2 separate regions of the Homo sapiens genome follow, and region 2 is linked to region 1. The links come from fine-mapping of genetic effects on gene expression. Tissue or cell type: nasal epithelium. Region 1 holds a variant in brackets; the other region holds the start of a gene. All regions are shown on one strand. Distances are between the middles of the regions.

What was found. PIP is the estimated chance that this variant, and not a neighbour inherited with it, causes the effect.
Region 2: it holds the start of DMXL1, and the variant in region 1 is fine-mapped to the expression of DMXL1 in nasal epithelium (TOPMed, PIP above 0.99). The same link has a PIP of 0.9 or more in lung and monocytes.

What each region holds. Positions count from the first base shown.
Region 1 is chr5:119,235,248-119,243,358 of GRCh38, reverse strand. DMXL1 (Dmx like 1) reads right to left here. Exons shown (of 44, transcript NM_001290321.3): 40 at 5,945-6,037; 41 at 4,279-4,370; 42 at 2,888-2,940. Among named protein-coding and RNA genes, the nearest start is that of MIR5706, 85 kb to the right of the region's middle. The variant T/C (reference allele first, on the strand shown) is at 4,492.
Region 2 is chr5:119,066,902-119,075,012 of GRCh38, reverse strand. It overlaps DMXL1 (Dmx like 1), which reads right to left and starts at 3,926. Exons shown (of 44, transcript NM_001290321.3): 1 at 3,357-3,926. The coding sequence starts at 3,443. DMXL1-DT (DMXL1 divergent transcript) reads left to right here and starts at 4,123. Exons shown (of 3, transcript NR_134250.1): 1 at 4,123-4,207. LOC124901209 (small nucleolar RNA U13) reads left to right here and starts at 5,613; the gene lies at 5,613-5,716. RefSeq lists silencers at 3,490-3,769, 4,080-4,159.

The DNA.
Region 1 (8,111 bases):
GTAAAAGAGATTATCACCTACCTAATAGGGTTGCCTGAGGATTTAATATATGCAGATCATGTATAGTCCATGGCATAAACTAAACACTTAGTTATTATTGTAAGACTTGAAATAAAATTAATTACAGAGAAGGAACTTTGACCAGCACTTTGAGATATAACTTCCCAGAGGAAAATGCACACTTTTTAAGTATATACCTTGATGAGCACTGACAAATGAATACATCTGTGTAACCATCACTAAGATCAAGGTACAGAATATTTTCATCATCCCAGAACGTTCCTTCATGCCCCTTCATGGTCAATTCTCCTCCCCAACAAAAGCAATCACTATTCTGACTTCTATCCAATTAGTTCATTCCAGAAGTTCTATTATTTTGCATATTACATGCAGGTTTATGGTCCATTTTGAGTTAATTTTTATGAAAGGTGAGGTCTGTATCTGGGTTCAATTTTTTATATGTTGACATTAAATTGTTCTGGCATTATTTGTTGAAAAGACTATCGTTTCTCCACTGAATTGCCTCTGTGACATATTAAACATAAGTCTACTATATATGTGAGTCTATTAGTGGGCTCCCCATTCTGTTCTATGATCTATATGTATATTCTTAAGCTAATACCACAATGTCTTGATTACTGTAGCTTATAAGTGTTGAAATCAGATAGTATAATGTGAGTCCCACAAGTGTGTTTTTCTCTAGTATTTGGTTGGCTATTCCTTTGCTTTCCCATATAAACTTCAGAATCAGTTTGTTGATATCTGCAAAGTAGCATGCTGGAATTTTGATTAGGATTGTGTTGAATCTATAAAATCAAGACGAACTGACATCTTAAGAATATTGTGTCTTCTAATCTGTGAATGTGGAGTATCACTCATTTATTTAGATCTTCTTTGATTTAAATCATTTTTATAGTTTTGTGCATACACACCCTGTACATATTTTGTTAGATTTATGTCTCAGTATTTCATTGTTTTGGGTGCTATTGTAAATGGTAATATTCTTTAAATTTCAAATTGCAATTGTTCATTGTTGATGCATCAAAAAGCAACTGAATTTAGTACAGCTGACCCTTCAACAACACTGGTTTGAAATGTGTGGGTCCACTTAGATGTGGTTTATTCAATAGATATATTGGAACATTTTTTAAAGATTTGAGATAATTTGAAAAAACTTGCAGACAACCCACATAGCCAAGAAATATCCAAAAAATTAAGAAAAAGTATGCCATGAATGCATAAAACATATGTAGATACTAGTCTATTTTATCATTTACTACCATAAAATATACACAAATTACAAAAAGTTAAATTTATTGAAACATACGCACACAAATACAGATTGTAAGTGGTGCCATCGACAGTCGAGAAATGTAAACAAAAATACAGTATGAAATCATAAGTACATAAAATTAATTATAGTACATACTGTACTACTGTTATAATTTAGTAGCCACCTCCTGTTGCTATTGCAGTTAGCTCAAGTGTTGCGAGTATATACTTAAAATGCTGTGTGATGCTCATCATCTCCATGTGAGCAGGTCTTCTCTCCAGTAAACTGTATATTGCAGTGAAAAGTGATCTCCTGTGGCACTTGTGAATTTTTCATTGTATTTAGTGCAACAGTGTAAACCTTGAATAACACCATGGGAACCATACAACATGCCACTAGTAATGCTGGAAGTGCTCCCAAAAAGCAGACCAAAGTCAAGACATTACAAGAAAAAAGTTGAATTGCTTGATATGCACCACAAATTGAGGTCTGCAGCTGTAGTTGCCTGCCATTTCAGACAGATAATTCATCTTTTTTTTTTTTTTTTTTTTGAGACGGAGTCTTGCTCTGTCGCCCAGGCTGGAGAGCAGTGGCTCCATCTCAGCTCACTGCAAGCTCCGCCTCCCGGGTTCACACCATTCTCCTGCCTCAGCCTCCCAAGTAGCTAGGACTACAGGCATCCACCACAACGCCTGGCTAATTTTTTTTTGGTATTTTAAGTAGAGATGGGGTTTCACCGTGTTAGCCAGGATTGTCTAGATCTCCTGACCTCGTGATCCACCCGCCTTGGCCTCCCAAAGTGCTGGGATTACAGGCATGAGCCACTGCGCCCGGCCTCAGACAGAAAATTCATCTTGTAAACAGATGACATAAACTTTACAATATCAATAAATACAGTACACTACTGTATGTACTCATGATTTTCATAACATTTTCTTTTTTCTAGCTTCCTATAAAACACATATACAAAATATGTGTTAATTGACTATATTAATAATAAGGTATCCAGTAAACACTAGGCTATTAGTAGTTAAATTCTGGGGGGAATAAAAAATTATGATTTTCATCTGTGCAGGGGTCAGCATCCCAATCCTTATGTTGTTCAAGGGTCAACTGTATATTGACCTTGTATCCTGGGACCTTGCTATACTTGTGAATTTATTTTGTAGATTCTTTGGGATATTTTATAGAAAATTATGTTTTCTGTGAATAAAGACAGTTTTATTTCTTCCCTTCCATTTATATACATTTTATTTCCTATTATTGTGTTACTGCATTAGCTAGGAATTCCAGTGCAATGTTGAATAGGAGTGGTAAGAGGGGACATAATATTGAGTTTACATCATGTTTACAACGATAACCTGTGGCTATCAGATTCAAAGTAAAGACAAATGATTTTTATATTATCGATGTCTCACTGTCCCCCATCAAGGTATAGTGAAGAGTTAATTACGTATATTGCATCTTTTTGCTTTCAAATCCTGCCATCCTGGGCAAAAGAAATCTCATGGGTTAATAAATATATGTGTCATCAGTAACAAATCCACTTATAAATAATATTTAGCTTATGAATTTCCTGACTTTCAAAATTTATAAAATGCTTTGAAAACTTACCATGGACTAAACTATTGGCAGGTGCTACAAGAGTATCCCACAAACATACGTTTCTGGAAAAAAAAAAAAAGATTACTTCTGAGTGACACAAAAGCTAACAATAAAAAATATGTCATATATAACTGTGTGACCTTTAAACCTTGCTGTCACAGAAGGTTCTTAAATTTATAAAAGCAACAAATACAAGTAACCAACAAATTTATATGAAACTAATTTTTATATAAAAAAAAGAATGCAGTGGTGGAATCTTGGCTCACTGCAGCCTCGACCTTCTGGGCTCAAGCAATCTTCCCACCTCAATGTCCCGAGTAGCTGGGACTACAGATGTGTGCCACCATGTCTGGCTAATTTTTTAAATTTTTTTTTGTAGAGATGGAGTCTCCCTATGTTGCCCAGGCTGGTCTCAAATTCCTGGGCTGAAATGATCCTCCTGCCTCAGCCTGCCAAGGCACTGGGATTACAGGCATGAGCCAACATGCTCTGGCTACAATTTTTTGTTTTTTTTTTTTTTTGAGATGGAGTTTTACACTCTTGTTGCCTAGGCTGGAGTGCAATGGTGTGATCTTGGCTCACTGCAACCTCTGCCTCCCAGGTTCAAGCGATTCTCCTGCCTCAGCCCCCAGAGTAGCTGGGATTACAGGCACCTGCCACCACGCCTGGCTAATTTTTTGTATTTTTAGTAGAGATAGGGTTTCACCATGTTGCCCAGGCTGGACTCAAACTCCTGGCCTCAAGTGATCCGCCCACCTCGGCCTCCCAAAGTGCTGGGATTACAAGCATGAGCCACTGTGCCCGACCCACAATTTTTACAGAAAATTTAAAGCTACTATTATAGCTTAAAAATTTGAATAACTTTAGATTAACATGCGTTTACAAATAATAATATATGAAGTCTGAATATGGAAACTTCTTTTTGTATTCACTGAATCTCTAACAGTTGGACTGACATACATTAACAGGAGAGATGCTGAATTTTCTTAAGCACAAAGAAAACTTGTTTCTACTGTGTGGGGGGACCAACATACGTAAGAAATATCTACGGAAGACGAGCTGAAGAATCTATAGTCTTACAATCCTGTTTCTAGTGCAAAGTGTGGCCTTACAGATAAATATATAAGCTAAGCAAACTCAGTGGGCCTTGATCTCAGAACTCAGTTATATAACAGAAATCAAAAGAGGCAGACAGATACTGGGGCAGGAGATGACACTTTCTTACAACCACAGCTTTTGGGGGTGGGGCTGGAATAACATGGCCAATAAATAATAGTTTTTAGAATAAAAATACTGTATCTAAAGCCATAAGTAAACTTTAGTCAAACACAAGGACAGAAACAATAAAAAAAAGTTCAGCTATACTTTCTCATACTTCAATTTTAGCTATCATCTCTTACCTATTGTCAGTTGAAAGACCAGCTGTAGCTATCAGAGAGGAGGAACTAACGAAGACAAAATCATTGGCTGTTTTGTTATGACACTGCCAAGTCTGGAATGGTTACAAACAATACGTGTTACTCCTCTCACTAAAAATGTCATAACCAGGTAAATGTATTCTTCGAAAAGTGATCATGTAGTTTCTGGCTTTCTTAAATCCTCTGTATCGTTTT[T/C]TTCCTTTGAACTTTAGAAAAATTGTAAAAGTAATACAGAGAACTTTCATATACCTTTTACCCAGATGCAGCAACTTTTTAACATTTTGGCACATTTGTTTTGCCTCTACTTCTCTTTCATATTTGTAGACACCCACGCATACACACACTTTTCCTGAACTATTTAAGTAGGCTGCATATATCATGACCCGTTATGAATCTCTTTGCTTTTGTTCAACCAAAAGTTCAAAGGAAAACATGAGGTTAAACTTAAAGACCTTCTCCTAGCATAGTGAAAATTTCTGTTTCAGAAGATAGAAACTAGAATTTTAGATGATACCAGACTTTTGTTAAATAATTGACATATATTTTTCAAAAATATTTAAGCTTTTAAAAATTCAAGTACATGAAAAAAATTACTAATAGTCATCAAAATTAGAAAACATATAGCATTTTTCAATATTCTACCAAACAGTACACTTAATTATGAGGTTTCTTCATTTATAAAAGCTTCAAAATTATGTTTTACATATTTCTCTTTAATAAAAAATGATTTTTTTTAAGTATCCCAAAATCACCACACCAAAGATTATTCCTTTGAGCCAACTCCCCATTTCCCCTGGAACACTACTGGAGCTGGGCTAGATGATGTGTCCTTAAAACAGACAAAATCCTCTTAATCTCCAAAAGCCAGTTATTCATAATTTAAACCAATTCATTTTTTTAAAAGTTAAAAAAAACAGTCCCTTAGAGAACAAACTTATACATCTAAATCTTTAAGCTTAATAAAAATATGAGAAACAGTTAATATTCTTTCAAGGTACCCTAATCAATCCTCCCATGCTTGCTTGCTTTTACTTAGATCAGTACTGTATTCTAGCAATTAACCTTGGGCAAATTACCAGAATCTTAACCTATATTCTTAACTTTTTTTCTGATAGGAATTGCTTAGTCCTATAAAGAGCTTCACTGAAGATATGAAATATAAATTCAGTATTCTATGAAGCCACAGAAAGTTCATAAAAGCCTGCATAATCCTAAATTAAAAGAGATGAACAAGAAAATAACAGTACCAGCTATAGGATGTCCTTTTCACTTTGTTTGTTCATAAGAGATAATTGCAGAAAAATAACCAGACGCATTGGTCTGGTAATCATTCTATTTAGGCATAATATAATAACCAGTTTAGTGAGGTTAGAAAAGGGCTCTAGTAATCCACAAGATGTATAGGTATCTGGGGGTATCATGTTGCTTCTATACATGTCAACTTCCCAAATTATCAGAGACTAAGGAATTTTATGCTTCACAGAGTAATTTTCACATAACACAAGGACAGAATCTTACAGCAAAGTGACTGAGAACACAGGACTATATTTTATTTATTAGTTCTATATTTCTTGTCTCAAATACGTATTCTTGGTTTATTTAAAATGAAAATTCAAATTTTATTTAAAGGTAGAAATTCTTGGCTTACCAGGTATGGCTTAGGCATGCTTCCAGTAACTGGACAACATTTCCAGTTTGTTTGATACAAACTTAAATATCCATCAGCATCAACTATTCCAAACTTAGAGAAAGAAAATATTTAAAAGTATTTAATATAAATATAAAAGCATATATTTATCCTTACCCTCAGTGTGACACCCATATTTTGACTCGTAAACATTTGACTGTATGTCATGTGATTTTTCACTTCACCTATACATGGATCTATTTCAGAAAAACATTCAGCTACTACTTTAAAAATCCCAGGGTGAACATAAAGAGAACAAACATCAGACACCCATTTTATTACAGTAGCCTCTAGCATAGTCTATATATTCTCTGTAAGTATTACAAAAACAGGATACTGGATTAACAGATTATGCTATGTGACAGAACTTTATCATATATAAGAAAGAAAACTGTTCATTTCCAGAAAGATAAAATAAGGATTTTCAGAAACAAACAATAAGGAAAACACATGAACAAGAGTACAAAGTAAAATGATATAAGGATTATCAAAGTAAAATAATTCCGCTATGGGAGCTCAGGGCAAGTCTGACTGGTAAGATGTCAAAATAATCCACTAAGGGAGGTATTCTTGATACAGATCTTGAAGGATGAGTAAGACAGCTAAATTTTTTCCCTTTGATTATAAAAATAACGCAGCTTATTATAAAGTATATAAAATAAATGTCTGCTTTGTACTCCCACCCTCCTCTGCCTCTAGATCTAACATCTATTAACAATTTGATGTGCTTCCTTTCAGATTTGTTTCTATGAGTATTCAAAAATTCACAATATAGCATTTAAAAAATTGGGATCATAATAATACCACTACACAATTACATTTTTTATTTATTATAGCTATCTTTCCCAGGTAATTACACATAAATTTAGATCATTCTTGTGCTGTGTGTAGTATTACACTGTACAGTGGTATTACAATTTAAAACTTTCCCCATACCGTTTTCAATTTTCTGTAATATAAAAAGGGCTGCTTTGAACATTCCTATATATACATATACCTTTGCATAATTATGTAGGATAGACATCTAGAAATGGGAAAGTTTTGTTAAAGAGCATCACTTAAAATTAATAGACTATGCCAAAATTAAATCCTATGTGGTAATATAAATTGATACAGCCATTTTTCTTACACTTTAGTTAACATGGGGTATTTTTAAAATCTAAAATACTTGTTAATTTTATGCAGACAAGAATAAGTCTCAATTTATTTGCACTTCTTCAATTATTAGTGAAGGTAGAAGGCTACTGGCCAGGCAAAGTTTCTTGGTAAACTGTTAAGATGTTTTATCTATTTCTCTACTATTTGTCTTTTAAAAAATTTAACTGATATGACTAATATTATGAATATTAACCTACTGTTTTTATATTTGTTAATAATATTTTCCCAGGTCTATTCCTTTTTCTAGTTTATCTTACATTTTCTGGAGTAGATCTAGGTATGTTCTTCAGAAAGGGTATACACATGGAATGTGTTAAGTCTCTGTATACCTAAAAATATGTTTATTTTGCTAGCAAATTTGAATGATAGTTTGGATGCACATCGACTCAGTTCCCATTCCTTGTCCATCAGAATTCTGTGGATATTGTTCTCCTATCTATTTGTGACAGGCCAACGACATTTAGTGGCAGGGTGGGATGTGGGTTGTAAATAACCTTTTTCATTCTCACTCCTTTTTAGAACCTTATAGGATTCTCTCTTTAACTCTAAAAACCAAAAGTTACACAAACAGGATGTGTGCAGGTACGTGTTGCTTCTCAATACTTGGTAGGCCCTTTCTCTTCCAATATTCTATTCTTTGCTTTGGGGAAGTATCTATTATTCCTTTGAATATTGTTTTTCCTCCATTTTTTTCTTCTGAAATATTTCCTAAATTATCATCATTATGGGATAGTTTCTTAATTTGTGCTTCCCAGCAACAAACCTGATTTTCAACTATTTCCATTCTGCTGTTCAGCTTTTCTAATAAGTAGTTCCCCCACTGACCACATTTTTGGGAATCGTATTTTTAATTTCCAATAACTCTTTTCTGTTTTCCTACTGTCCTTGTTTAATGCTAGCATGTTCTTGTTGTATAAATGTAATATATTCTTGAATCTCTGAGGAATTAGTCCTCATAGGTTATTTATTA
Region 2 (8,111 bases), 170 kb after region 1:
TGGACTTACAGCTTAGCACTTTTTCATGTAGCAACTCTATGAATAATACTCTTTTAGTCCCATTTTACAGAAGAGAAAAAAAGAAATTCCAAGAGTATAACTTGCTAATGGATAAACAGCTAATTAAAAGGGACCACATTGGAAATCAACTCCAAGTAATGACCTTACTGTTAGGTTTAAACACTCTTTCAATCACTGTTCTAGGTGCTCACAATGAAGCGTGGGAAGTCATACACATACAATCCACAAGGCAAGACTGGTTAATGATAGAATAAAGATGCAAAGAAAGTGCTCTGAAAGCACAGGAGAGATGGTCATTGCCCACAAGAGGTTTTCTTACTAAGAGCAAAGTCAAAACAGCTTGATGCCTGATGAGGTAGTAAAAAAGTATCTAATACTTAAATAGACTAATCTGCGTTGGTAATTTCATATTTTCAAATCTAGAAAATAGGAGAAGTGGCATTCAGTTTCATTTCCATTTAAAACCTGTCAGGCTTTATGAGTAAAACAAGATCTCACATCTTGTAATCTTTCAAACCAAGAACACGTAAGTTATCTGCAAACATGCAAAGGGAGGAATTACAAAAGCAGGACTGTCCTAAAAGAAAACACAAAGTACCAAAAGGAATAAAAGAATTTTTCAAGGGGAACTGCAAGAGGAAGATGTCATGCTCCACTTCAAGTAAAATGCAACTGAGGGATATTTTAGTCTTCACATACCATCTACCATTAATGTTTACTATTTTCCTATCAAAGAAAAGTCAAAATCAAAAAAGGTTAAAAACAACACTCAAGGCTGGGTGCAGTGGCTCCCGCCTGTAATCCCAGCACTTTGGGAGGCCAAGACTGGTGGATCACCTGAGGTCAGGAGCTCCAGACCAGCCTGACCAACATGGTGAAACCCCACCTCTACTAAAAAATACAAAATTAGCAGGGCATGGTGGCACATGCCTGTAATCCCAGCTTCTCAGGAGGCTGAGGCAGGAGAATCTCTTGAACACAGGAGGCGGAAGTTGCAGTGAGCTAAGATCGCGCCATTGCACTCCAGCCTGGGCAACGACAGCGAAACTCCGTCTCAAAAAAAAAAAACAACACAAAACAACTCAAGAAGTAAACAATAGATTCTGCCTTTTAACATGAGAGAAGAAAAAAGGGCGATTTCAAGAGAGAAAAATTTAAGGTGTATATAAGTGTCCAGGATAATGAGCGTAAGCAACTTAAAGAGTCAAGGATGAACAGGCTGCAAAGGAAAACCATGACTGTTAAATCCTTAAAATTCCATCAAAACTAAAGAGAGCTGAACTCTCTTTATACTTAAAAATTTATTTTTAGTTTATTTACTGAATGCTTCCAGAGACCTGGAAGAAATCTGCAGTAGGCTTGGTGGGAGATTAAATCCTACTCAATGGAAATGAACTTTAAAATTCAGCAGAACTGAGCAACAAGCTACATGATGGTACAGGATGACCATCTATCTAATCCTCCTCGGCACATTAACTGATCTCTCCTTAAAAACAATACACAGACATTCACCAAGGTTTTATAGAGGAATGCATCCAGGTATATAAATAGGCCATCATACTGCATATGCTTTGAAGTTCACACCACTGCTTACATAGATTGTGAATGCCTTCTTAGAAAAAATTCTTAGGGCTGGGCATGGTGGCTCACGCCTCTAATCCTAGCATTTTGGGAGGCTGAAGTGGGAGGATCACTTGAGCCCAGGAAGTCAAGACCAGCCTGGGCAACATAAGGAGACCCCTCTCTACAAAAAATAGAAAACTTAGCCAGCCGTGGTGATTAGAATCTGTAGTCCTAGCTCCTCAGGAGCCTAAGGTGGAAGGACGGCTTGTGCCGGGGAGGTCGAGGCTGCAGTGAGCTGTGATCCCGCCACTGCACTCCAGCCTAGGTGACAGAGGGAGACCTCATTTCAAAAGTTTTTAAAAAGCAAAAGTTCTTAGAATTTACACTGGAGAAAGCACTCATATAAATTTAGGAAATGACAGAGAATGCAACAATATTATCCTATAATTTCCCACTAGGAAAACCTTCTAAGGATGATGTTTACTTTCCTCTCAAGCAGCAAGAGCAGAGAGCAATGCCCAGGTGTAAGGAAACTATAGTTGCTCACTGGGACCCTCAGAGCTCACTCTTTTCCCAAGTATTCAGGCTGGGCAAACATTTAGAATTGGAATCCCGATAATTAAGATGTGTATGAGTCAATCTAAAGGGGAGGTACAGTCTCTATTTGAAAACAAAATGCTTCTTGGCACAATTCTAAAAGTACAATTCAGGCATTAAATGCCTCCACCATTTTAAATGCTGAGTATTATTTATTCTGACCAACAAAGACCACAGAAAAATTAAAAGCAGAGAAAAAGATTAGAAATTTAACACTCCTAAACCTGGGGCATTGGTTACGTTGTTTACTTTGTGTCACTTATACAAAATTAAGTTTTACTTTTATTTTTTTTAAAGAAAAAAGCCTACAGCACTTAGTATTCCCAGGCAGTGACAAGTTTTACTTTTAATCACAACTAAAGAGGTATCTACACAAATTGTAGCAAAAATCATTAGCATTATAAATTTATGTAGATAAAAGTATCATGTGCAATTACTGACTTATATTTTGAAATTGTTATTAAAAAAAAACCTATAGTTAAGGTAGAAAAATGCCACTATACTGACAAGTAGCCCGAAATTTGGTGCCCTCTTCTTGTCAATATGTGACCAATGAAAAGCAAGTTAAGCAACCTTAACCTGGGATTACCAGGTTATTGTAAAATATCCAAGAAATATTTTTAAAAATGAAAAGGCTTTTTTTTCTTTCCGAAGTTATTTCTCAGGGAATTAGAAAAGAAAATAAATGAAAAACACTGTTCTCAAGGCTAGTTGTTGATGGCAAACAATTGGTAATTGTTTTGAGACACCCACTTTTTAACTACAAAGATACTTGACCTTAACTTAGAATACAAAATGAAACCAATCTCCACTATTCCTAAATTTGACAATTTGAACCTATAGAATGGTATAAAAAAGCCCCCAACTCGTTACTCAACAAAGATTTTTGAACAAACGACTTTGGCAAAGCACCCTGGCCCAAGGCAGACAGACCAAAAACTTTAAAAATCCTACAAAATATTCTAACTTGAGTTCAGGCTCCATACAGTACCTCACTGACCGACATGGTTTTGCTTCCTTAGTTCTCAAGGGCCAGGTCTGCTGGGTTCTGGGTGGTAAGGACCCCCCTGGGGAGACAAGACCTCGCGCCTCTGCCCGTCGTTCTGGGCCAAGCTCGGCCCAGAATGACGGGCAAAGGCCGGGCCACGGGCGACGCGAGGGCCTCCCTCACTCACCGTGAAGCGCTGGTCGCCAATGCTGCCCACGGAGAAGCAGTGGTCGCCAGGGTTCACAGCCCCGGTCAGCACCTGGTGCAGGTTCATGTCGGCGCCCTAGTCCTGCAACGGACACCGCATCCAGCTCATGCCACGGGTCAGCGGCTGCTTCCCTCCCTCCTTCCCTCAGGGGCGGCGGCCGCTCTTCGGTGGCGACGGCAGAAGCAGCGACAGGCGCCTGGAGCCGGAGCCGCTCAGCTGGGGCCCGCGACTCATCCCGAGCCCCGGAGGGCGAGGCCCGGAGGGGGCGGGTCGGCGAGAGGGCGGAGCGCCGCGCTCCTTCGCGCACCTGTCACTCCCCGCGCTAGCCCAGGTGAAGCTCAGGGTCCCCTCACCGGCCACGACCCGGGGCCGACTCACCGGCCAGGAAGGCCGCGCTGTCCACACACTTCCTCTGGACCTCGGGCAGCCGCTCCTGACCCAGCCCGAGTGGCGCAAGCAGTACGCGCTCGCACTCCCCGCCTGACCTGTCCCTTCCCGGCTCCGGTGCCCGCCACCCCCACAGTCCTCCGCCACTCACTACGCGCCTCTGGATCCCTGCGGCCGAAATATCGCGAGACTTCGCTCGGGGCAGCTGCTACTGTGGTAAAGAATTCACTTTTTTACCACAGCGTGCGTATCAGCAAGTGAACATAAAAACGCCTCTTCTAGTCAGAAACTGGCCAATCCCGACCCCCGGTCCACCTAGGGCTCCGCCCACCACCGAGAATAAGCCAATCTCTTTGAGGCTTCTACAGGAGAACGCCGTGCGTTTGAGCTTGAACCTGATAAGCCTGGCAGAAGCCTGATGAACCCAGAATGAGTGAGATGTGGTAAGTTGTGCTTTAGGTTAGGGCGTCATCTAACTGTTGGGCCAGAAAATTTAAAGGGGAGAAGTGCATCCTAAAGGGAGTTGCAGTTTCCTCGGTTCTGGTAGGACTACAAGTCCCAATATGCACCGCTCCCCCGGGCGACCTGAGTGTCTCTTGAGTAAATGTGACCCTTGAAACGTCTACGTTAGCAGCTTAATGGTTTCTCCAGCCTTGCGCGTGTTTCCAAGTCCCTAAACGGGATGGTTTTTGAAAGGCTCGAACACTTGACAAGTAGGAAAGTGGTATTTTCTTAGCCTAAGTTATCTTAACACGTGATTTGAAATAGTGCTGGTAATAACAACACACCAGCCCTGCATTGAGCGTTTGTTTTGGAAAAGAACCTAGGAATTCCAGAATGATCAGAGTCACAGCTACAAACTGAGATTCAACTCTCATTGTATTTTGACACAAGTTTTGTATTATAATTGACAAACATCTGTTTATATGTCTCCCCCTGTATACCGTAAGCCTCTTTGGAATACAGAGGAACAGGACACAAGTCTGTCCTTAATGTCTAGCACCGCACCAGTCCCACCCATTCAGGGTGTTCTGTAAATGTTGCATGAATGTGTATAGAAACTCTCCAAATAGGCCAGGCACGGTGACTCACGCCTATTATTCCAGAACTTTGGGAGGCCGAGGAGGGTGAATCACGAGGTCAGGAGTTCGAGACCAGCCTGGCCAACATAGTGAAACCCCCTTCTCTACTAAAAATACAAAAATTAGCCGGGCGTGGTGGCTCCCACCTGTAATCCCAGCTACTCGGGAGGTTGAGGCAGGAGAATCACTTGAACCCGGGAGGCAGAGGTTGTAGTGAGCCAAGACCCCCGTTGCACTCCAGCCTGGGTGACAGAGTGAGATCCCGTCTCAAAACAAACAACCCTCAAAACTCTCCAATAGGCCAGGCACGATGGCTCACGCCTGTAATCCCAGCACTTTGGTAAGTCGAGGTGGGGGCGGGGGGATCACCTGAGGTTGGGAGTTCGAGACCAGCCTGGCTAACATTGTGAAACCCAGTTTCTACTAAAAATTAAAAAATTAGCCTGGCATGGTGGCACGCGCCTGTAATCCCAGCTACTGGGAAGCTGAGGCGAGAGAATCGCTTGAACCTGGGAGACGGAGGTTGCAGTGAGCCAAGATCGTGTCATTGCACTCCAGCTTGGGCAACAAGAGAGAAAGTCAAAAAAAAAAAAAAAAAAGAGAGAAAAGAAAATAAAGAAACTCCCCCTTTTGTTGTAGTATGAAGACTTCAAACTATAATAATACTAGGGTGGGACGAGTACTAGTAAATTTATTTCCTTTTATTTTTACTACATTTTTTGCAATGTACATTTACTTTGTCTGACAATAAAAAGCTACTTACGAGATACTTTTTAGTTCATAAGTGGGATGATTGTGTGTTCACACTTGTGTGAGACGTCCCTCCCTCAAACCTTGTTGCGCCATCATCTGCACATTACCCATCTGATGTGGGGAAAAAAAAAAAACCCGAAACTTATTTAAAAAATGAATTTCATTATGTATTCCAGGCTTTTCATAAGATAAGGGACAAAACTTAATTTGTCTTTTTTTAAAATATACTTATTTTTTGAGGTCTAACATACCTACAGTTTGTCTTTTATTATTTCAAATTATACTTCAAGTGCTTTTTAATTTTATATTTTAGACCCAGAACCAGGATTGTTGTACTTGTGTGGCTCCCACATAAATTCTGTGGCTGGTTCATAATTTAACATGTTTACTCATTCTATTTTGCCCATTTGTTAGTTTTGAAGAGCATTCCACGTATTAGAATAAAACTGAGCAACAAGATGCGGGGCGCGGTGGCTCACGCCTGTAATCCCAGCACTTTGGGAGGCCAAGGCGGGCAGATCATGAGGTCAGGAGATCAAGACCGTCCTGGCTAACACAGTGAAACCCCGTCTCTACAGAAAATACAGAAAAAAAAATTAGCCAGGCGTGGTGGCGGGCACCTATAGTCCCAGCTATTTAGGAGGCTGAGGCAGGAGAATGGCGTGAACCCGGGAGGCGGAGCTTGCAGTGAGCAGAGCTTGCGCCACTGCACTCCAGCCTGGGCGACAGAGCAAGACTCCATCCCAAAAACAAAACAAAACAAAACAAAAAACAACAAACAAACAAAATTCCCTTTGCCTCCAAGATGCTGCCCCTCACAGATCATCTCCTAATGTCATAAAATTCCCCTACTAAGGTTCTGTCGAATCCTAAATCTATTCCTGATTTATTGTGCAACTTTGACATGACTCTGACCTTATGGGAAGATTAATAAGAAGGTGGAGGAGGTGAAAGTAAATTTTAGGTTGTTTGCCCCTCATCCTCCTGTTCCTGTTTCCTTACTGCGGGTCTAGAAGGCAGCACTGCATGCCTCCATTCCACTTGCTCAAAGTCTCCACATTCCTTCTACCAAAGGCTCACAAATCAACCTGCTAATCCAAGAAATCCAGGAGAAGGGCCTGGTGCAGTGGTTAACACCTGCAATCCCAGCGCTTTGGGAGGCTGAGGCAGGAAGATCCCTGAACTCAGGAGTTCCAGGTTGCAGTGAACTATGATCACGCCACTGTACTCTAACCTGGGCGATAGACCTTGTCTTAAAAAAAAAAAAAAAATCCCGGAGAATTATTGAGTCTAATTATCCCCTCAACTATAATTGAATTATATCCTTCCATCCTTTGAATGCTCACTGACTGTGTGCTTTGGTGGTTTTCTTTTTTAGTTTCTAAAAAAAAATAAGAGAGAAAGGATGGCTCTACAAAAAAAAAAAAAAAAAAGTCTTGCTGTATGCAGCGCCAGTAGTCCCAGTTACCCAAGAGGCTAAGGCAGGAGAATCGTTGAGAGTCCAGGAGTTCAAGTCCAGTCTAGGTAAAATAGATCACGTCTCTTAAAAACCAAATAAAAAATTAAAAATAAAATAAAGGAAGTCTTTTATTGTATAGTTTGCATTATTACTAGCAGCAAGATGTCTTACATAACCGACGTGCCATGTGGTTTCTGAGATTGGCAGGCCAAAGATAAGTTTTGGTTTTCAATGCTAGTCTTCAAGAGGAGGGGGAATTTTTTTTTTTTTTTTTGGGACAGAGTCTTGCTCTGTCACCCAGGCTGGAGAGCAGTGGCGCGATCTCAAGAAGAGGGGGAATTTTATAAGAGTCAGTGGGTGGTGATAGTTTAAAGAAACCCAAGCAGGCCAAATTCTGAGATTCTTGGAAAGAAAAGGAGCATATAGGAAGCTAGCTCAGATTGGGAAATAATCATGCCTCTTGCCCACTCTTGATTTCTTGAAATCCTTGTCATTACCCTCCTCCCCCACCCCAAATAGACCAATCTAAATCCCTATTCTTGGCCGGGGGCAGTGGCTCACATCTGTAATCCCAGCACTTTGGGAGGCCCAGGCGGGCGGATCACCTGAGGTCCAGCGACCAACATGGCAAAACCCTGTCTTACTAAAAAATACAAAAATTAGGGCTGGGGGCGGTGGCTCATGCCTGTAATCCCAGCACTTTGGGAGGCCGAGGCAGATGGATCATGAGGTCAGGAGTTTGAGACCAGCCCGGCCAACGCAGTAAAACCCTGTCTCTACTAAAAATACAACAAATTAGACAGGAGTGCTGGCAGGTGCCTGTAATTCCAGCTACTCTGGAGGCTGAGGCAGGAGAATCGCTTGAAGCTGTGAGGTGGAGGTTACAGTGAGCCAAGATCATGCCATTGCACTCCAGCCTGGGTAACAAGAGTGAAACTCCGTCTCATGAACAAACAAACAAACAAAAAATTATCAGGGTGTGGTGGCACGTGCCTGTAGTCCCAGCTACTTGGGAGGCTAAGTCAGGAGAATCGCTTGAACCTGGGAGGCGGA